Linked DNA regions of Homo sapiens: regions 1 and 3 are each linked to region 2. The links come from fine-mapping of genetic effects on gene expression. A gene starts in region 2. Each other region holds a variant in brackets. All regions are shown on one strand. Distances are from middle to middle.

What was found. PIP is the estimated chance that this variant, and not a neighbour inherited with it, causes the effect. A credible set is the group of variants that fine-mapping cannot tell apart.
Region 1: its variant is the best candidate, but not a certain one, in a credible set for the expression of CYP2W1 in testis (GTEx, PIP 0.58).
Region 3: its variant is the best candidate, but not a certain one, in a credible set for the expression of CYP2W1 in thyroid (GTEx, PIP 0.58).

Annotation. Positions count from the first base shown.
Region 1 is chr7:1,088,841-1,096,209 of GRCh38, reverse strand. The region is part of intron 2 of CHLSN (cholesin); the gene reads left to right. GPER1 (G protein-coupled estrogen receptor 1) reads right to left here. Exons shown (of 2, transcript NM_001098201.3): 2 at 2,400-4,803. The coding sequence starts at 4,481. The coding sequence ends at 3,354. Among named protein-coding and RNA genes, the nearest start is that of GPER1, 4.4 kb to the right of the region's middle. RefSeq lists an enhancer at 8-717. The variant C/T (reference allele first, on the strand shown) is at 3,098.
Region 2 is chr7:978,900-985,766 of GRCh38, reverse strand. CYP2W1 (cytochrome P450 family 2 subfamily W member 1) reads right to left here and starts at 2,586. Exons shown (of 9, transcript NM_017781.3): 1 at 2,382-2,586; 2 at 1,193-1,355; 3 at 668-817; 4 at 444-601. The coding sequence starts at 2,555. It also overlaps a transcript of CHLSN not described here.
Region 3 is chr7:1,004,411-1,011,779 of GRCh38, reverse strand. CHLSN (cholesin) reads left to right here. Exons shown (of 5, transcript NM_001318252.2): 3 at 1,637-1,830. LOC124901570 (a long non-coding RNA gene) reads right to left here. Exons shown (of 3, transcript XR_007060184.1): 1 at 7,368-7,369; 2 at 6,335-6,991; 3 at 5,709-5,992. Among named protein-coding and RNA genes, the nearest start is that of MIR339, 15 kb to the left of the region's middle. The variant C/T (reference allele first, on the strand shown) is at 3,233.

The DNA of each region.
Region 1 (7,369 bases), 110 kb before region 2:
TCCCCAGAAGAGACCTGGCGGAGAGGAGCGGCGTAGTGGGGCGGCGTGACGCTTCCACGCACTCAACAGCGGTGTCTGGTGCGGGCAGGATGGAAGCCGCGTCTGTGGCAGGGAGGGAAGGACGCCACAGTCAGCACTGTTCCCTGTGGTGGGTTGACGTGGAGGAATGAGTTGAGTCCCGTCCCTGATTGATGCCTGGGGCTCTGTTCAGACGCAGTTCCCACCCAGATCACCTTAAGGGAGCCCTCCCCGCTGCCGCTGCTGCCGTCCCTGCACTTCCCGCACAGCAGGCTTTAGAGGAGGTTGGGCTGGTGACCTTGGGTGACCCCTCGATGCCCATGGCCCCCAGCCCTGTATGATTTCTGCATGGCGTGCTTTTGCCAGTTAGACGCCAGGGGTTGCCGAGTGCTACAGAGCTTGTGGGCTTTGAGCCAGGAGAGCGTGGCTGAATTCCTGGCTGTGTCACCCACCATTTAAGGCTTCGAGCAGTGACTGACCCTTCTAGTGCCTCCTTGGTGTGGTGGGGACAGCGCTTACCCCACGGGGCTGCTGTGAGGGGTGGGGACCAGACCACGTTCCGTGTGGGTCTCCCCACGTCAGCTCGTCAGAACTGGAAGTCAGAAATGCTGGGTCTCTCGTCTGCGTATTTTAAAGCGTCTGCCCTTGCCCCTGTTGAAGCTATGTGAACGGGACTGTGTGTGGGGAATGCCTGACAGGTAGTTGGGTGCCTGGTGGTAGAGCACCCACCCCGCCTGCTTTCTGGGACTTGGATGGTTTTTCCCCATCAGCAACACTGAGGTCAAAAGGGGAGCTTCATTGAAGCATGCATCTTGTAAAGAGAGTGCCCGGGTGTCGGGGAGGGGGGTTTGGGGGCTGCTGCGTGACTGTCCTGGGTATTGTTGTAAAGACAGCGCCCAGGTGTGGGGGGTGGGGGTTTGGGGGGCTGCTGCCTGGCTGTCCTGGGCATTGAGCGAGTACATCCCTGGGGAGGAGGGCAAGTCTCGTCCCTGGGGCCTGGAAGGAGCTCCAGAGCACGGATGTCAGTGTGATGGCCATGTCCTTTTAGCTGGGGTGACTTGCAGGGCAGGCTCTGGAAGGGCAGAGGGAGGGGTGCGCCGGGCCTGAGTCGTGGCTCAAGCCACGCACGGTGTTCTGCAGGACTGTGCCACACGTGAGCCTGGCTTCTGGCTTGGCCACCCCACAGCAATCTCCACTTCCACGAGACCTGTTAGTGTGTGGGAGCCGCCCTGTTCCCAGGCTTCCCGGTGAGCCATTTATGAGGAAAGCAATCCTGATAGAAGTGGGCACAGAGGCCGCTCCTGCAGGCCACGGTCTGGGCAGCGCTCTGTTCCTGAGGAGCCCAGCACCACGGTGCTGGGGTCATGGAGAATACAGGCCCCACCTGCCTGAGAGACCCAGGCTTCCCACACCCACCGACACACAGCTTCATGTCCCACAGACGGGAGGAGAGAGGTTTTACTGGGCTCACTGTGGTTGTGTTATGTCCCACAGACAGGAGGAGAGAGAGTTTCCTGGGCTCATGTGTGGTTATGTTATGTCCCATGGACGGGAGGAGAGAGTTTCCTGGACTCACTGTGGTTGTGTTATGTCCCACAGACAGGAGGAGAGAGTTTCCTGGACTCAACATGGCTGCGTTCAGTCTTCATTGTGCCGCACCCGTTCACCCCCTGCTCTTTTGCAGATGTTTTCTTTAATTGGCCTTTTCCTTTCAATATGTTTGCATATCAAACTTTATGTTATCACAAATAAAAAACAGTATCATAGCTTTTAAACAGACCAGAACCGCAAACACAGGAAAAGTGAGGGGGTAGTACAGGTGGCTAGTTCCCTTCACCCACACATCCCGACGCCCTGCGCAGGTTTCTGTGAAGACGGAGAAGCAGGCACTGGTTCAGGTGCACCTTGTTAACATCAGGGACAGCTGCTGCCAGGTGGGTGAGGCGGGAAAGGAGGGGAGCAGCGCCAGGATCCAGCCCCGGTGATGGGAGAAGGAGCAGGAACCTTCCCGGCCGGCTGCTCCAGGAGCGCTTGGGTGCCGCAGAGCTCTTGGGCCTCGCACGCGGCCGAGAGCCTTCTAGAAAGGCAGCTTAGGTCGCACAGGCTGCTGGACAAGGCTGAGCCCTGCCTCCTACATTCATGGGAAGCTTGTCATGGCACCCAAGCATGACACAGAAGTGCCCCCACGGCATTTTGGACAGCCTGGAAATGCCAGGTTAGGTCCGGCTGGCCGGACTCAGAGGCTGGCCTTGTGAGAGTTTTCAGGGTGGCAGGGGAGGGCTGTGTTTTCTGTGAGGGGGGAGGGATTCTCCCGAGTGCCCCATGCCCACCCCACGTCCCACCCCACTTGGCAGACCCCCAAGACAGAGCCTCCGGAAGGATCCGCACATGACAGGTTTATTGACAAAGGCTGAACGTCACCAGCCTCATCAGCTTTTCTTACATTTTATGGGAAGGTTTTTACATCATCACCGCAGTTGTCCCCAGCTGTTATTTCTGTAGAAACAAATTCGTCAGCCACAGGTGCTGGAGTATTTCATTGTCCTGGCACCCGACTAACCCACACGGCAGCTCGCACGGTCCCAGTCCACATGAGTGCAATTGCCATGTTGATGTCAACAAGCAGTGACTGAACCACCCCGGAGCAGACGGCGGGCGCTCCACAGAGGGGCCTTCCTGCTGCTCCGGGCCGAGCGCTGCTGCTCCTCGTGGGCCTGGTGAGGCCGCACAGCGCCATTGCTGCCATCCTGGAAGATGGAGGACGCTCAGGCGTGCACCAGAGCAGCATGTTTTCCTTCTCCTCTTTAACTCGGCGGTGCGCTAGCTAGCTCAGACCGTGGGCACAGAGGACACACCGCGACGTCCAGCTCAGACCCACCAGCACCTTGCATCTCCAGCGTCAGTTCCCCCACGGTGGCAGATTTGCTTTAGGGTTCCTGTGTAACTGAGGCGCTTCACCCACAGTGGCCTCTCCGTGTGGCTTTCCTGGTCGACGGTGTCAGAAATGTTTCCTGCAGCGGCAGGCAGGTGCAGCGGCAGGCAGGGTTGGCGGGGAGGAGCTGGGTGACAGGCTGGTCAC[C/T]GCTGGCCTTTGGACCCTGCGGGGCGAGCGCTTTGGGATTGTAGCAATTCTGTGTGAGGAGTGCAAGGTGACCAGTCGTGAGGTTTCCTAAGCAGCCCCAGGGTGACCAGGCAAGCGTGACCCTCGCGAGGCCCCGAGGAGCCAGAAGCCACATCTGACCGCAGTTTAGAGACATGACGTGGCCGTGCCTTGTGTCCACCCAGGTGTGTGCAGCTCCCGAGTCACACCCTGGCTGGGCCTATGCGGCCAAGGCTGTCTACACGGCACTGCTGAACCTCACATCCGACTGCTCGGTGCTGTCTGGAATGACGGCCTTCAGGGCAGCGTGACAGAAGCGGTTCAGGGCCGGCAAATTTGTTTTCTGCTCAATGTACAGCCTCAGCTTGTCCCTGAAGGTCTCCCCGAGAAAGCTGTAGATGAGGGGGTTTAGGCAGCTGTTGGAGAAGGCGGCGAGGTTGACAATGTGGCCCGTGAGGGGGTGGGCATGGCGGAAAGACTGCTTGCAGGGAGCGGCCCCAGGCTGCGTCCGCTGCAGGAGGTGCACGCTGATGAAGACGTTCTCCGGCAGCCAGCAGACGAAGAAGACCAGCACCACCGCGAGGATCATGCGGAGCGCCTTCTGCCGCCGGGGCCGCAGCCCACGGTGCCGGTGCGCCCTGACCAGCACCCGGACAATGAGGGAGTAGCACAGGCCGATGATGGCGAAGGGCACGATGAAGCCCAGCGTGACCTCGAGCCACTGCACCTCCCGGACATCCGCGAAACAGAAGCAGGCCTCGTCGGTGTGCTGCAGGTGCACGGCGGTGAAGGGCACCAGCGTGGCTGACACGGATGCCATCCAGATGAGGCCACAGCTCAGCCGGGCGTGGTGCTTGGTGCGGAACAGGCTGCAGCGCATGGCCCTGGCCAGGGCGATGTAGCGGTCGAAGCTCATCCAGGTGAGGAAGAAGACGCTGCTGTACATGTTGACCTGCAGGAAGAGCGACATGAAGGTGCACAGGACGGCGATGTCGTAGTACCGCTCGTGCAGGTTGAACACCTCAATGAGGGAGTCGGCCACCAGGATGAGGTCCGCCACCGCCAGGTTGATGAAGTACAGGTCGGGGATGGTCATCTTCTCGCGGAAGCTGATGTTCACCACCAGGATCAGGATGTTGCCCACAAAGCCGATGGGGAAGAGGAAGATGGTGTAGAGGCACGAGAGGAACAGGCCGATCACGTACTGCTGGTGCTCCGAGAGCTCACCTGTCCCATTGGCCAGGGCGGTGCCCAGGAGCGGGTGGGACAGGTTGAGCTCGGGGGAGGTGGTGTTGGGGGCCGCAGGCTGCGCGGTGCCTGGGTACATCTCCAGGCCCACGCCCCGGGCTTGGGAAGTCACATCCATGTCTCTGCACCGTGCAGCTTTCAAGATTTGCCGAAAGGCTCCCAGAGCTCTGTTTTAAATGGTGAATCCATCTTTAGAAAGAAGCGTGATTCTCCTTGAAGTGAGCCTGGCATTTGTCAGACAGGAAACTCCCCAGGAGGAGCACCTGTGGTGGTTTGGGTTGGGTTTGTTAACTGCAGAGAGTGGGAAGAACAGATGCTCCTCACACCGGCATGGTGCATCCGTGGAGGCGAGGGCCCTCCGCGTGCTCGTCCGGCGGGCGTCCCTGCGGGTGTCGGCCACCGTGCACAGTCCCGCGTGGAGCTGCTCACTCTCTGGGTACCTGGAGAAGCAACAGGAGAGGATGAAGTCTCATCGAGTGGCCCCAGCTTTGGGACAAGGCCTGGCTCCCCTGGCCGGGTGTCTGTAGAGTCTGGGTGTGTCAGGAGCACTGGGGAGGGCCAGAACCTCAGCTTTATGAGCTCGGGAGGTGGCTGTGGTTGAGCTGAGGTGGAAGAGTCGCCTGTGGGAAGTACATGGCCTTCTTTCCTGCAGGTCCCACGGCTGCTCAGCTGCAGCTGGAGGCTGGACGTGAGTCACTCCCACAGGCAGGGGTGTTTTTCCCTTTATAGCCACAGAGCAGGCCCAGGAAGCAATGAAGGTATGGGCACGGCCGCCCCAGGACAACGGCATTTGTGAGGAGAGGGGAAAATGCATTTCAGCAGCTGATGGAGAAGTAAGATAGGAAGGGAAAGCCAGTGTTTCTGAGAGAGAGAGAGTGGGTCCAGAAAGCTGGACATCAGAGCAGAATCTTCTCTTACGATAAAACAGAAGTTCAGCGGTTTCCTCATGCTAGTTCTGTGTTCTAGGTACCAAAAATAAACTTATTTTCGTAATATAGAGTGAAAGGGGTCATTGTTTTGGGAAATAATATGTACGTTTTTATTTCATGTTTTAACAAATTATTGTAAAACCTAATATGTTTTTGCAATGCTGTTTGTAACCTAGGAAGAAACTCCAGGGAGAGAGTCCCTCCCGAGCTTATCCTCTGCAGAGAGGGAGAAGTGGGCTGTCCGCCCACGGCGGTGCCCGGGCTCTGCCGCCAGTGGGGAGGGTCCCGTCACCCACCCCGTGTCACCCTGGCTCTGCCGCCAGTGGAGAGGTCCCGTCACCCGCCCCGTGTCACCCCGGCTCTGCCGCCAGTGGGTAGGGTCCCATCACCTGCCCTGTGTCACCCCGGCTCTGCCGCCAGTGGGGAGGGTCCCATCACCCACCCCGTGTCACCCTGGCCCTGCTGCGAGTGGGGAGGTCCTGTCACCTGCCCCGTGTCACCCCGGCTCTGCCGCCAGTGGGGAGGGTCCCGTCACCTGCCCCGTGTCACTGTGCTCCTGGAAGTTCTCTATGCAGCGGGCCACGGGGGTCTCAGCCTGCAGACACTGGCAGTCTCTGGGGATGCGGGGGCAGTCACAGGGGGGTGCTGGTGGGGCCAGGGCTGCCGCTCAGCTCCCTACAGTGCCTAGGACAGGTGCCCAAGCCCAGCAGAGAATTACCTGGCCCAGATGGTGCTGGTGCCCTGGAGTAAACTAACACTTCAAAATGGGTTTGAGTTGTTTTTCCTTTGGGAATTTTCATTTTACCTTTTGAAATCATTAGGAGTTATTGTTTTGAATGTTTTTTTTTTTTGGTCACCCAGGTTGGAGTGCAGTGGCACAATCTCGGCTCACTGCAACTGCCGCCTCCCGGGTTAGAGTGGTTCTCCTGCCTCAGCCTCCTGAGTATCTGGGATTATAGGTGTGCACCACCACGCCTGGCTAATGTTTTATATTTTTAGTAGAGATGGGGTTTTACCATGTTGCCCAGGCTTGTATCGAACTTCTGACCTGTAGTGATCTGCCCGCCTTGGCCTCCCACGGTGCTGGGATTACAGGTGTGATCCACCGCGCCGGGCCAGGGGTTATTGTTTTGAAGTGCTGCAAAACCAGACTAGAGATTTGTTGACCTATTGCTTGAAAATACTTACTTAAAAAAAAAAAAAAAAAAAAGGCTGGCCTATAATCCCAGCACTTCAGGAAGATGAGGTGGGAGGATTGCTCAAGTTCAGGAGTTCGAGACCAGCCTGGGTAACATGGCGAAACCCTGTCTCTACTAAAAAAAGACAAAAAAAGTAGCTGGGCATAGTGGTGTGCGCCTGTAGTCCCAGCTACTCGGGAGGCTGAGGCAGGAGGATCGCCTGAGCCTGGCAGGTAGAGGTTGCAGTGAGCCAAGATCACACCACTGCACTCGAGCCTCAGCCGAGATCACACCACTGCACTCGAGCCTCAGCCGAGATCACACCACTGCACTCGAGCCTGAGCTACTGCAGTGAGGCCCCATCTCAAAAACAGGCGGGTGGGGAAGACAAGATGAATCACTGCCTCTGTGTCAGTTATTCTAAAAGTACTGAATAACCTTCACTTAGCTGGGGCTGGTGAATTTGATTTTGGTTATTTTGCACTCTTGATTCATCTTTAGTAGATAATACCATTGAACAGCATAAATGCCTCTGCTCTCAGGCTCTGTCGGGAAGGTTGAAAGACTCCGCATTTCGCCTCTGTATTTAATTTCTTAAAAACGGCACAGAGGACTTGTTTTGCTCTTTAAATGTAGAAATTTTGGAACGTATTAGACCGTGGCGTGGCAGGAAGTTTAAAGGTGGGCAGAACCCTCAACTTAACGTTTATTTTCTTTCCTAATTTTGTTAAATGAACTCCAAGGGAAAAATAGTTTAAAAACGAGTCATTCATTTCTTTCCCATGTAAATTGAGTCTTTTGATCGTTGCCAGACACCGAGAAGATACGGGACCTGGTGTCTGATGTGTCCTAGTGTCTGATGTGGTCCTGGGTGAGAGGAACCTAGTGTGCCATTCACC
Region 2 (6,867 bases):
TCTTTACATTTTGAAGCTAAATGAAATACACGAGTTCCAAACATCAGAGGGGTGAACTTTTGTGGTTTTGGGGCACTGTAAAGGGCGTCAGCAGGAAGGTGCCTGGACTGTCAGGGCTTGGGGGGCAGACATGGAGCCCCCCGCAATTCTGGGGAAGCCATGCCTGCCTCCCACCTCCACTCTTGAGCAGATGCATCTGTTACTGATGAGGGCGTGGGGGAGATGGGGATCCCCCATTTCCTGGAGAGCACAGGGGCTGGTTTGAGGCCACATGACCAGCTAACGTCGGATGGGTCCTGATTCAGGCCCTTGCATCTGATTCCTTTTGCAAGGTGGGAGGGCCGAGAAGCTGAGAGGGGACAGCACTGGGGCCCCCGTCCTCCTGCTGCACGCCCATCACTCCAGGCTCCACCCCACCCCAAGGATGGGAGGCAGCTCCTCACCTGCAGGCCAGGGGACCCCAAGAGGACCATGACCTCATCGATGAGACCCAGCAGGGACACAAACACGGGGTCCCGGTAGTCAAATCGGCGGCCGAAGAGGAGCGCGAAGGTGATATTGGAGGGAGCCCAGCCCAGTAGGGCCAGCGGGAAGGGCCGGCCTGCGAGGGAGACGGGCCTCAGGCACGTCCAGGCCCGGGGAGGGGCGTCCCCGGCCCCCTGCTCACCTCTGTAGCCATCCAGCTGCCCAGAGAGGCATTTCAGCTCCTGCAGAATCTTGTCAGCCACCGGCTCCCGGCCCACGCCCAGGCTGTGCAGGGCACGCACCGTGAACTGGCGGGCAGCCCTCCAGCGCGCCCCAGATGAGAAGAAGATGCCTGTAGGCAGATACAGTGCGTGGTGAGCCCAGGTTCCCACCCCAGCCAGCCCCGCCAGGCAAGTGGGCAGGAAGTGAGCAGGCTGACAGGGCAGCGAGACTGGCTGGGCCCTCACCCCCATCCCCACTCCCGTCCCCCTGGGCTGGCCCTGGCCCCTCTTGACTTGGGATGAAAAGAACCCCGCTTGCTGGTTCTGAGCACCTGACCTGCTGTGTGGACACCTGGCCCTTCTCAGCACCAGCCCGGAGGCCCAGCTCCTGCCTGCTCTTCCCCAGGCCACCCTGGGAGCCTCTCCCGCTGCTGGAGCCCCCACCCCTCCTGGGGTCCAGGTGCCCCCACACCCAGTAGGCCCCGTAGCGCCGGCCACACACCGACCTCCACCTCGCTGGATGAGCTGGAAGATGGCGATGGGAGGCCGGTCGGCCAGCTCCTGCCCGGGGCCCGCCAGCGCCTCTTTGACCGCCTCGAACCCCGTCAGCACCACCGTCTTCTGGCGCCCCAGGTGCACGGTGAACACCGGCCCGTAGCGTTCTGAGAGCTGGCAGGGATGGCGGGGGTCACCCGGGCAGCCCTCACCCACAAGACCCCCCTTAGGTCCCCTCAGGCCGGGCCTGTGCTGGGTAGGGGTGGGGACAGAGGGAAAATGGGGGCAGGTGGAGGGGGCACGCCTAGATGCCATAAAGCCAGTGGTGCAGGGTGGAGGGGGCAGCGCCCAGCCTGGAGCCCACAGAGCCCTCTCGCCATCTGGTGCTTGGCATGGCTGTTGTGGGATTTTCTTTTTAGCCAAAATTCCTGGGGGGCTCAAGCCCTGAGTCCAGGCGGCAAGGTCGGGGGCTGGCTGTCTGCTGGGGTGGCACATTCTGAAAGGCCAGAGTCTGCACAGAGTGAGGGCCTGACAGGCTCGGCCCCCAGAGACCCTGATCCGTCTTCGGCTACAGCCCGGCCAGCAGCACCCCAGCCCGCAGTTGGGGGCAGCCGGAGGCAGGGCCCGGGCCTGACTGGTCAGCCCTGTCCCACTGACCCTGCCTGCCTGAGCGAGGACAGAGCGACAGTGCTAGTCAGGCTGCCCCGTGCCGTGTCCCCGTACCCTCTGTCCTCAGCATCCCTGCCCAGGAGGCACAGGTCCTCTTCCCATTTCACAGATGAGGAAACAGAGGCTCAAAAGTGGGAAGTGTTTGCTGTTGAACACCTGAGGGCCGAGGGGGGCTGAGCAGGCAGCCGACAGGCCCAGGCCCTCCTCCCCTCTGCTGTCCCTAAGCCTGGCCTCCTGCGGGCTCTCAGCAGACGCCACCGCCTCCAGGGAGCCCTCCAGACTCCTGCTCCCGCGCCGGGCCCTGGGTGGCACCTCCAGGGCTTCTTCGTACTCAGTGTGTCTGCTTCCCTGTGGGACGGGGTGGCTTTCCCCTCCCAAAAGCAGGGTGGGCCCTCCGGCCTCCTGCGTGCCCCGCTGGGCCCGGCACCATGTGGGAACAGGCAGTGGAAACCGGGCTGGGCTTCCCCAGGAGGGGGGCCAGGACACGGCAGCTGTCCAAGCGGCAAGAGCTGCCCGGGCTCCCTGACTTACCTCCATCAGGGACCGGTCCTGTTGCGACAGACGCAGCAAGTGCAGGTTCCCGACGAGCGGCAGCGGGCGAGGCCCCGGGGGCCACCGGGCAGCTGGGGAGGGGTCTTGGGCGCAGGCGCAGAGCAGCCCCCAGAGCCCCAGGAGGCCCAGGAACAGCAAGAGCAGCAGGGCCATGAGGACGTGGCTGGTGAGGCTCCACTCCCCTCCTGGGCCCCGTCCCCCCCGCACCCTTATAGGCCTCCGCGGGAGGGCGTGCCCGCACCCCACCCACCCCACCACCCCGAGAATGTGGAACGAGCAGTTTGCAGGGCAGCCCCCAGCGGATGGCTTAAAGCTGCAGGCCTGCGTGGAATGTGGGGCTGAGGCCCTGGTGGGGCCGGGGAGGGGAGGGCAGGACGGGGGCCCTCTGGGGTCAGGCATCCATGTCTCCTGGCCAGAGAGAAGGATGTGGCACGTGGACTGTTCTGCCCCTGGTTCTGCTGAACCTGCCAGTCCAGGCCCCTTGGCCTTGGCCACCCCTCAGAACTGGGATTCACAGGGCTTTGGGGCCGAGGCCCTGGCTTGGAGGGGAGCCCCCTGCCTTTCACAGGCTCTGAGTGGGACCCTGTGGAGCTCAGGGTTTGCAGGCCTCTCCCAAACCCCATCCGTGTGCACCCAGCTCTTCTCTGATCAGCTCCCCACGGGGCAAGGGACAGGAGTGAGACCTCAGGGAGGCCCATGAGGGGACTCAAATCCCACAGTCCTCACAGGCCACCACCTGCATCTCCCTGAGGGTGTTCTCGCCCCAGGTAGCAGCCTGCTCCTTTTCGAGGGCTGCCGCCCGGGCAGGGGATGCAACCCTCTGAGCTAGGACAGGAACATGGAAGGGCTGCCGGGTGGCAGGTGGCGGGGTTTACGAGCCCTGTCCATCTGTCTCCTAAACCGCTGTGAGGGGTGGGAGGGCTGCTGGCAGCAGAAGCGGCCGGGCCTGCTTTGCACAGCCTGCCCTGACATGAGGCAGCTGGAGCTGGTGCCAGCAGGCGGGACCCTCCCCACAGCCTGTCTCTGGGGCGTTGCCCATGCCCTGTACGAACCGCAGAGCCGAGGCAGCCTGAGGCCCTCACCCCTCCCGGGTTGGTCCCCCTTGATTAGCTGGGAGGGAAAGCCCCAGGCACAGTTGCACGCCTCCTGTGGTGGGGAGCTCACTACCTCTATCCTGCTGTACAGCCTCAGGGCCAGGGCTGGGCGGCTGCGGCGGGGAGGGAGTGCCTCATACCAGGGCCACTACTGGGTAGGCTGGGGGTCCTACCTGCCTAGCAAAGCTTACTTAATTAATTCAGGGAATACTTTTGATTTTTGTGTGTTTTGTTTTTGAGACAGGGTCTTGCTCTGTTGCCCAGGCTGGATTACCGTGCTGTGAGTACAGGCTCACTGCAGCCTCCACCTCCGGGGCTCAAGCCATCCTCCCACCTCAGCCTCCCAAATAGCTGGGACTACAGGCATGCACCACCCAGCCTAGCTAACTTTATTTATTTATTTATGTAGAAATGGAGGTCCTGCTACGTTGCTCAGGCTGGTCTCACACTCCTGGGTTCAAGCAATCCTCCTGCCTCGACCTCCCAAAGTGTTGGGATTGCAGGTGTAAGCCACTGCACCTGGCCTAATTTTTTAAGTTTTGGGTTTTTGTTGTTTTTGAGACGGAATCTCACTCTGTTGCCAGGCTGGACTACAATGGCGTGATCTCGGCTCACTGCAACCTCCGCCTCCCGGGTTGGAGCGATTCTCCTGCCTCAGCCTCCCGAGTAGCTGGGATTACAGGCACATGCCACCACACCTGGCTACTTTTTGTATCTTTAGTAGAGACGGGGTTTCACCATGTTGGCCAGGACAGTCTCGATCTCTTGACCTCATCATGATCCGCCCGCCTCGGCCTCCCAAAGTGCTGGGAATTTTGTAAGTTTCTTTTAGAGACGGAGTCTAGAGGCTGGTCTTCAACTCCTCCTGGGCTCAAGCGATCCTACTGTGGCCGCCTCCAAAAGCGCTGGGATTACTAGCATGAGCCAATGCCGGGCCGGCCTCTTTTTCTTTTCTTTTCTTTTTTTTTTTTTTTGAGATGGAGTCTCACTCTCGTCATCCAGGCTAGAGTGCAGTGGCATGATCTTGGCTCACTGCAACCTCCATCGCCCGTGTTCAAGTGATCCTCCTGCCTCAGCCTCCCGGGTAGCTGGGATTACAGGCATATGCAACCACACTCAGCTAATTTTTGTATTTTTAGTAGAGATGGGGTTTTGCCATGTTGGCCAGGCTGATCTCGAGCTCCTGACCTCAAGTGATCCACCTGCCTTGGCCTCCCAAAGCACTGGGATTACAGGCGTGAGCCACAGTGCCCAGCCCTCTTTTAAAAGTAACTCGTTGGCCAGGCGCAGTGGCTTATGCCTGTAATCCCAGCACTTTGGGAGGCTGAGGTGGGCGGATCACGAGGTCAGGAGATGGAGATCGAGACCATCCTGGCTAACACGGCAAAACCCCATCTCTACTAAAAATACAAAAAATTAGCCGGGCGTGATAGCGGGCGCCTGTAGTCCCAGCTACTCAGGAGGCTGAGGCAGGAGAATGGCGTGAACCCGGGAGGCGGAGCTTGCAGTGAGCTGAGATGGCACCACTGCACTCCAGCCTGGGCAACAGAGTGAGACTCCATCTCAAAAAAAAAAAAAAAAAAAAAGTAACTGTTACTGGGGAATTAACAGTACTCCTCTAACGGCTGCCTGTACGTGTTGCTTGCTCTGGGGGGCATGGCCGGGTGTGCATATTTGCATATTTACATTGTTTCCAATCTTAGGCTGTCACAGAACATCCTGATAAAAATATCTGTGTGCATACTTGCAAGGATGGGCACAGTTGCAAGGATATCTTAAAATAAATTCCTAGAAACCAGGTGGCTGAGCCAAGGCATTGTTGCTTTCTGATGTCCGGTGGACCTCCAGCGCCCTGCAGAGACGTGTGCCAACTGCAGCCTGGCTGCTCAAGTGGAACTTGGGACTGTTCTGATCAGACCTGATTGGTCCAGGCCTGCCAGACAGATACTCAGGCCTGAGCCATCTCTGTGACCAGGAGGAATGCAGTGCTGTGATTGGCTGGCTCAGGTCCTGCCTGCCCCTGACATCAGAGGCAGGGTGGGTGAGGTGGGTGGGTAGGTGGGCTCCCCCGGAGGGGCTGGAGTCAGACAGACCTGGTTCCAAACTCAGGCCCGCACCTGTCGGCTGTGGCAGATGGCGGCTTCCAGAGATGGCCGCACAGATTCTCCCAACCACACTGTCTTTGCGTAACGTAACACTGCGCTTCTCCCTCCACAGGAGGGCTTGTGGTCTTCCCCCTTTGTGACACAAAGTAGCAGAGGCCAGAAGCCGTGTTTGCTCATTCCACCAGTGGAGTTTCACGGGACGCTTTTGCAGTGTACTAGAGATCCACCAGACATCAAAAAGGAACTGTCCCTTGGCTCAGTGACCCGGTTTCCAGAAATTTAGTTTAAGGCATCCTTGCAACTGTGCGGAAAAAAGTGTGCGCCCTGCCTCAGTGACTGGGCGCGCCCCCTGGAAGAATGTCCCAGAGACTGAGCAGGCATGGCGCAGGTGCCCACGGCTCTTGCTTGAATCCCTGCATTTTTTTTTTTTTGAGACGGAGTTTCCCTCTCTGTTGCCCAGGCTGGAGTTCACTGCAACCTCCGCCTCCCAGGTTCAAGCGATTCTCCTGCCTCAGCCTCCCGAGTAGCTGGGACTACAGGCACTCACCACCACGCCCGGCTAATTTTTGTATTTTTAGTAGAGACGGGGTTTCACCATGTTGGCCAGGCTGGTCTTGAACTCCTAACCTCAGATGATCCGCCCACCGTGGCCACCCAAAGTGCTGGGATTATAGGTGTGAGCCACCACACCCGGCCAAATCACTGCGTTTTTTAAAAAGATAAGGTCAACGATCCTAGCCCTTGTCTCCTCCTGCACATAAGATAACGTCTGACAGGATCAGTGGCTGTAATCTATGACGAGATGGACTCTTGCACCGAAACTTTGACGATCGCATTTGGCTCTAAGGTACCCCCTGAGCAGGTGCAGAGCCTCCGCCACCCGTTGATAAGCTGAGGCCCGAAACATTGCTTTGGAGCAGTCGAACTGAAACTCTGAAACACCCTCCCGGATTGCAATGCTCAATAGGAATCTGAATAAAACTAACTTTACTTCTTCGAAAGCAAAATTTTCCTTTAGTTGACTCCTTGAATCTGGGTGGGCACTTGTGGTCACAGTGGAGGCTGGATCCCAAACAGTGATGCAGCTTCCTCTTGGTTCCCCAGGACACCTGTGCCGTGGACCCAGCCGCCATGCTGTGGGGAAGCCCAGCAGCTCGTAGAGGGGCCCATGTGGAGGGGAACCCAGGCCCACGGAACCGTGGCCAGGCTTCCACATGACACTGAGCCCACCTGCCTGCCAGCCACGTGTGCCATCGTGAGTGGATC
Region 3 (7,369 bases), 26 kb before region 2:
GGGGTGTGGCTGTGGGTGTGTTGGCGTGTGTGTATGGTGTTTGTGGGTGTCTGTGGGCGTGTGTGGGTATCTGTGGGTGTCTGGGTGTGTGGGCATCTGTGGGTGTCTCTGGGTGTGTTTGGGTATCTGGGTGTTTGTGGGTGTCTGGGTGTGTATCTGGGTGTGGGCGTGTGTGGCTGTGGGTATGTTGGGATGGTGTGTGGATGTGTTTGGGTGTGTTTGGGTATCTGGGTGTTTGTGGGTGTCTGCAGGTGTCTGGGTGTGGGTGTGTCAGGGTGTCTGGGCGTGTGAAGGTGTGTCTGGGTGTGGGTGTGTCTGGGTGTCTGTGGGCGTGTTTGGGTGTGTGGGTGTTTCTGGGTGTCTGTGGGTGTTTGGGTATCTGTGGGTGTCTGGGTGTCTGTGGATTTGTTGGATGTGTGTGGGTGTCGGTGTGTGTGGTTGTATGTGGGTGTGTGGCATGTGGGGGTGTCTGGGCGTGTGGGTGTTGGTCTATGTGTGGGTATCTGGGTGTGGGTGTGTTGGGTATGGGTGGGTGGGTATGTGGGTGTCTGTGGGTGTGGGTATGTGTCCGTGTCTGTGGGTGTGGGTGGGTGAGTGTGGGTGTATGGTGGGTGTGGGTGGGTGTGGGTCGGTGTGGGTACATGGGTGAGGGTTGGGGGCTGTGTTTGGCTGTAGGGGTGAAGTCTGTGAATGTGTGTGTCTGTGTCGGGGGGGTGGGTTGCATATATATCTGTATGTAGGGGGGCTTGCCTCACTCTTCTTTGCTCTCCCTGGGGTGGGATGCGTAGGCGTGGGCTGTGCCCGGCCTCCCTTCCTGGAAGCTCCCGGTGGGCGCTGCCTGGTTGATTCCCACGCCCCTAGCTGTTTCCCTGGGCTCCTGGCCTTGCTCGGAGTCTACACTGATGTTCTGACTTTTCCAAAAAAGACGAAGCATGTGGACAGCGGCTGGGGTCACCTCATGGTCACCCCGTGGCCCGGCTGCCCCGGCTTTGACGCTTTGCACCGTCCTCTTCTTTTGTTAATGAGGGGAGGGTGGGCAAGACGGAGGGCCTGTGCTTTCCTGGCAAGATGTGGCTGGGGACACATTGTCACAGCGGGCCCTCTCCCTCCCTTGGGGGTCTTGGCCCCCTCCCTGTCCCCAGCCTGCAGCCCAGGGGGAGCCAGGCAGCCAGTGACCTGCCAGAAAGCAGCAGGCCCCAGGCACCGTCCTCGGGATTTGGGTCGGGTCTGGGGCCAGCACCTGGCCTGTGTGATAACAGACACCAGCACACCTTCAGCCCTCCCTGGGGGCCGGCCCGGATCTTCCCACACTGTGTGGGGTGGGGCAGGACCTCACAGAGCCTCGGGAGCCGGGAGTCTGTGGGAGGTGGACCACGGGGGTGGGGAAGGGGCCTCTGGGCAGTTAATCCTGGCACCTGGCGCCTGCCCGCAGGACTGGCCATCCTCATGTGACCTGTCTGTCTCTTCGTCGTAGCACAGGCTTAGCAGGATGGTGTCGGCTGGGGCCAGACCCAGTGCTTGGGGACAGAGCTTTTGGCCACTACTGAGGTGAGGGTGGGCTCGGGAAGCCCCAGGCAGCGCACCCGTCTCTGGATACCCTCCATCCCCGAAGCCTAATGTGTTCCTTGACTTTCAGGGCGAAGCTGTGCTCAGGCCCGGGCTGGACGCAGAGCCAGAGCTGTCCCCAGAGGAGCAGAGGGTCCTGGAAAGGAAGCTGAAAAAGGAACGGAAGAAAGAGGAGAGGCAGCGTCTGCGGGAGGCAGGCCTTGTGGCCCAGCACCCGCCTGCCAGGCGCTCGGGGGCCGAACTGGCCCTGGACTACCTCTGCAGGTGAGCGGCCCTGCCCCACGCGGTTCTGTCCCGGACGTGCGTCTCAACCCCTGCCTGAGGGGGTCGAAGCCTTCACTCGCACACACTGTGTGGAAGGTTCTAGAGCAGTGAGGTATGAGCGTTCATGCCAGGCCTGTGCTGCCGCCGCTGCCCTTTCTGTCTGAATGGCCCAGAGCCTTCAGGAACTTTCAGGGGCGGCAGCAGAGCCGCTGCCCGTGCAGGGGTTGCCTGGAACTGTGCTTTTAGAAATGGGTCTGATGGTGAACCTTGCCCCAGGTGTACGTCACCACAGGAAGAATCCACGGGCCTGGGTGCTGCTTGGACGTGGGGGTGAGGAGGAGGGAACTCGTGGTGGCCTTCAGCCCTCACTCACAGTGACAGGAGGCGCCACTGCCACCCAAGAGCGGGAAGACGGGGATTGTGGGGTGCTGGGCACAGGGTGCCATCTCCCTGGCTGCCTGCGGCGTGGCTGGGTGGATGGTGCCTGCGGCGTGGCTGGGTGGACGGTGCAGGATTGCAGGGGTCAGAGGCTTTGGCGTGGGCTCCACAGCCTTGCGGGCTGTGGCCACCTCCCCGGCGCTTACCAGCACAGGCTGCTGCCCGTTCCTGTCCGTCTCCCTGAGTGCTGACTGCACCTAGAATAAGGGGTGTCACGGCGTCCACGTGGCTGGCTTCCTCAGAGACAAGAACTGGGTCCCTGTGATGAAGTCACCCTGAGGGGCAGGGTGTCCTGTGGGGGCACTGGCCCTGCCTGGGAGGACAGGCTCCAGCCGCACCTCTGTGGGAGGCCCTCGGAGAGATGACCTCCTCGGAGAGATGACCCCCAGTGTGGCTGTGCAGCTAGCGGAATGAGCAGCGGGGCCTGCGTGGATGTGCACGCTGCGTGCACGTGCACGTGTACGTGTGTGCATGTGTGTACGTGTGTGCATGTGTATGTGTGTGTGTGTGCGTGTATGTGTGTTCGCATGGGTGTGTGTGCACGCATGTGTGTTCGCATGAGGGGGTGTGCGTGTGCATGTATGCGCATGTGTATACGTGTGTTGTGTACGTGTGTGCATGTGTATACGAGTGTTGCGTACACGTGTGTGCGTGTGTTTACGTGTGTGCGTGTGTATACACGTTGTGTATATGTGCGTGTGTACATGTATACACGTGTGTACATGTGCGTGTGTGCGTGTGTGTTTATGCACGTGTGTGTTTATGTGTGGACATGTGTGTTGTGTGTGCATCCCCAGGACGGTCCTCCACCTACAGGAGAGGGGCTCTTGGCTGCCCTGCACCAGGCTCAGCGCCGGGCTCAGGAAATGGGGATGGGGGCAAGCCTCCTGTTTCTCGGAGCTGAGGCTGCCTTGGGGGTCATAGAATGAGCTCAGCCATAGCGTTGGGTGGATCCGGCTGGAAC[C/T]AGTTGAGTCATCATGGGTCTCTGCACTGGTCAGTTCTCTGGGAGGCTTAGCTTCCCTCTCCCTGAGGAACGTGGGGCTGAGGCCAGGTGCCCAGGGCTACCCCAAGAGCTCTTTCTTGCTCCAAGAACGCGCTTGGCCCAGGGGACCCAAGGTGCTGGCTGTGGTGTGAGGCTGCTGCCTCCTGCGCTTGCTCCTGCTTCTCTGCAGGCAGGGCCACAAGCCACCGCAGGGTCAGTCGCTGTAGACAGAGAGGGCTTCAGAGGCCGTTAGTGCAGCGTCTCGAGCCCAGGTGTGGGCAAGGTGTGGGCTGGGCAGAGCAGGTGGACACAGGCCTGGAAGGTGCCAGCCGCAGGAATGGACTGTAGGCTCCCTGTGGGAGGCAGAGGGCGACTGGGGCCTGCAGCTGTGCCACCTGCACCTTGCCTGTCTCCACTGGCAGGTGCCTCGGGGCGTGGCTGTTCTGGACCTGCCCTGATGCCTGGGGTGGGCGGGGTTTGTCCGCCTTCCTCCCCAGGCCTGCCAGCACCTTCCGCTGCTCTCAGTGTGGACTGTTAGACAAGGGGGACGTTGGGGACGTGGGCAGGAGAGGGGGGACCATCCGCTCCACCACGTGGCTGCCACTCCCTGGTCTTCACCCTGGAGGCGCCCTGACTCCCCTCCCATGATCACACACCCTCCGAGCACCCCACGGGAAGGTCCTGAGTGCCTGGGAGCATGCCCTGCTCCTGTCCTCAGCCTCACCCTCCTCTCCCCCTCTGGGACCTTCCCGTGGCCCCCTCATGCTACTCGCAACCCCCCAGCGGCAAGTCCTGTGCGGAGGCACTGTGTCCTGCGTGTGGGAGGAGGGGGGACTCTTACTTCTCAGAAACAAAGCAGCCCCTTCCCACAGGAGCTTCTTCCAAGGCCTGGGATCCACACACCAGGAGGCCAGCCACAGACACGGGCACCCCGGCAGGAGCTTCTCCTCTTTCCTGGGGGTCTCCAAGGGTGCCCGCAAGCCCAGCCGCATCTGGCTGCCAGATCAGAGCCCACGTGGATGTGTGGAGCCCACGGTATCCCTGGCAACTCAGGGTTTTCCAAAGAGAGGGAGCCCGGGGATTCCCACAGGGGAGTGTCCTCAGCCTGGGGGCTGCTGGGGACCACTGGCCACGCCACGGCTGGCCCACCACAGAGCCCCCAGCCCAGGGGCAGCGGTGAAGGTAGGTGCCCGAGTTGTCCTCCCCCTGCAGAGGCCCTGGACTGGGACTCAGGAAGGACATGCTGGCCGCCGTGGCCCATGGCCATCTTATGGGCTTTCCACGAGGGGTTCCTCCTGGAGGCAAAGCCATCTGCAGCCAGGTGGGCTGTGTGTGGAGGAGACCCCGGATTGTTCTGGTGAGCCCTCATGGTGGAGAGTTTCCTCTCATCTCTCTGGGAGGCACCCCACCCATTCCAGGATGCCCTGGGGGTCTCCCCTCCAGATCCCCCGAAGGCTCTGCCCCCAAGACACGTCGACCCAGCGCCCGTGGGGTCTTCATGCCCCGTCCCTAGAACCCGGGTCGCAGGCTGGGCAGCATCCCCACACGGTGACCTTGGCCTGTGACCTGTGACCATACCCTGGGCTGTTCTTGCATCTCAAGGGTTCATCTTCTCTGCAGCCTTCCTGGGGTGCTCCTGGCTTTGTGTGAAGCTGGGGCTGGTGGGAGCTGTGCAGCAGGGCTGGGGAGAGGAGGGTCCAGAGGGTGGGATGGGGGATTGTGGCCGTCATGCGCTCTTTCCCTGCGCTGTGGCCGTCGTGTGCTCTTTCCCTGCAATGTGGCCATCGTGCGCTCTTTGTCTGCGCTGTGACCGTCATGCGCTCTTTCCCTGCAGTATGACCGTCGTGCGCTCTTTCCCCGCGCTGTGGCCGTCGTGCGCTCTTTCCCCGCGCTGTGGCCGTCGTGCGCTCTTTCCCCGCGCTGTGGCCGTCGTGCGCTCTTTCCCTGCGCTGTGGCCGTCGTGCGCTCTTTCCCTGCGCTGTGGCCGTCGTGTGCTCTTTCCCTGCAGTATGGCCGTCGTGCGCTCTTTCCCTGCGCTGTGGCCGTCGTGTGCTCTTTCCCTGCGCTGTGGCCGTCGTGTGCTCTTTCCCTGCGCTGTGGCCGTCGTGCGCTCTTTCCCTGCAGTATGGCCGTCGTGCGCTCTTTCCCTGCGCTGTGGCTGTCGTGCGCTCTTTCCCTGTGCTGTGACCGTCGTGTGCTCTTTCCCTGCACTGTGGCCGTCGTGTGCTCTTTCCCTGTGCTGTGACTGTCCCCTCGTTTTCCCAGCAGGGGCCCCAGGCTTGGTCACCCAGCTCTGTTTTTCCAGCTCAGAGCCGTGTTGCTCTGGCCTTGCATAGGCGGAAGTTTGGGAGTGCTGGAAGCAGTCCCTCCACTTTCTGTGGGTCTCTGGGTTGCTGGGTCCACTGTGGTAGTTACACGAGCGAGGCACACGGCTGTCAGCGGGCAAGCCTGTTCCTCATTAAAGAGAAAAAAGAGTTTATTTATATGCTTAACGCAGGAAATTGAAGATTTACTTTCCATATAACTGAAAAAAGAAAAGAACACGCCTGCTGGGTGTTCACGTTGGGGGCAGGTGGCGAGGTGACCGCTGCCTCCCTGGTCCCTGCAGGCTTTAGCTCACCATTTTCGGGGGCCGGCCCCCTGCCTGGGTCTGCTCGAGGCGGGAGGTGGTGCCCCCACAGGAGAGAGAGGAACTGGGACCCGGGCCACACGGATCCAGCCGGGACGGGGTCCCCCACTCACCTGCGGGAGGACGAGAGCAAGTCACTCCTGCCGTGGGGCAGCCCAAGCCCACCCTCCTCAGGTCCCCATGTTGCCCAGCACAGCATGGTGTCTTAGCTTCCTTGCACCCCGTGGCCTCCGGGCCTGGAACCCTGGAATGACAGGCCAGAGCAGAGGCCAAACTGTCCCATCAGCGGAGCTTAGGGGACACTTCTTGGGTGTCCTTCCCTACCCAGGCCCACTGCCCCGCTGCCGAGGGACAGCCCAGCTCCAAGTATGGGAGGAGCGGCCAACCCATGAGACCCGGCCCCTGTCCGCGCCAGCCCCGCTCGGGCCTTCATGGGCATTGGGTCGTCAGCTCACCGCGGCTGGCAGTTCCTGGTGCAGTTACGAGCACGTGGACGCTGTGGCTGCGGGCCGGCTTCAGATGCTGTCTCAATAGAGACCCTCGCTCAGTTTTCTTTTGGAAGGGGGTTCAGCAAGAAGTCCCCGCTTTTTGTGGGTTGATTTGTTTGTTTTGAGATGGAGTCTCACTCTGTCGCCAGGCTGGAGTGCAGTGGTGCAATCTCGGCTCACTGCAACCTCTGCTTCCCAGGTTCAAGCGATTCTCCTGCCTCAGCCTCCTGAGTAGCTGAGATTACAGGCATCCGACACCACGCCCGGCTAATTTTTTGTATTTTTAGTAGAGACAGGGTTTCACCGTATTAACCAAGATGGTCTTAGTCTCCTGACCTTGTGATCCGCCCTCGGCCTCCCAAAGTGCTCAGCTTACAGGCATGAGCCACTGTTCCCAGCCGCCCCTGCTTTTTTTTAAAGCCCAGTAGGCTAGCAGGGACTCTGGTTCTCCACCCAGCTGGTGAGTACCACAGGGGAGGAGGTTCTTCTCTCTGGGACGCTCTAGGCAGCTCTGGACAGATGACCCTGCAGTGGCCGTGGCCCCCGCTATGCTGGGGACAAGGGACTTCCCTCTGACTGCTCTCTTTCCTTTTCCAAGATGGGATCTCCTGTCTGCTGCCCCACCTAGGCAGAGAGAAAGAGGATTGTGTCAGGCATCCTGTGAACTGTCTGCAGTTGCGCAGGGACCAGTCCCCAGGGTGGGTGGCAGAGGCGGCCATCACTCAGGAGGCCTCGCCCAGTGCCGTGGGAGCCACAGGCGACACTGAGCACCCCACCCGCCCCTCGCTGTGTCTGCTCCCCCAGTGACGAGGCCAAGAGCGGGACGGCTCATCTTCGGTGGTGAGGGAGATGGGCTTGGCTTGAAGTCTGCCTGGTGGGGGCTCGGTGAGAGAGAGGCGCCCTTGGTTCAGGGCCGTAGGCAGCAGTGCCGTGGGCCAGCAGTGCTGTGGCCTCGGGCCCCATGGGAGGGCAGTGTGCAGAGCAGCTGTGACTGACTCACCG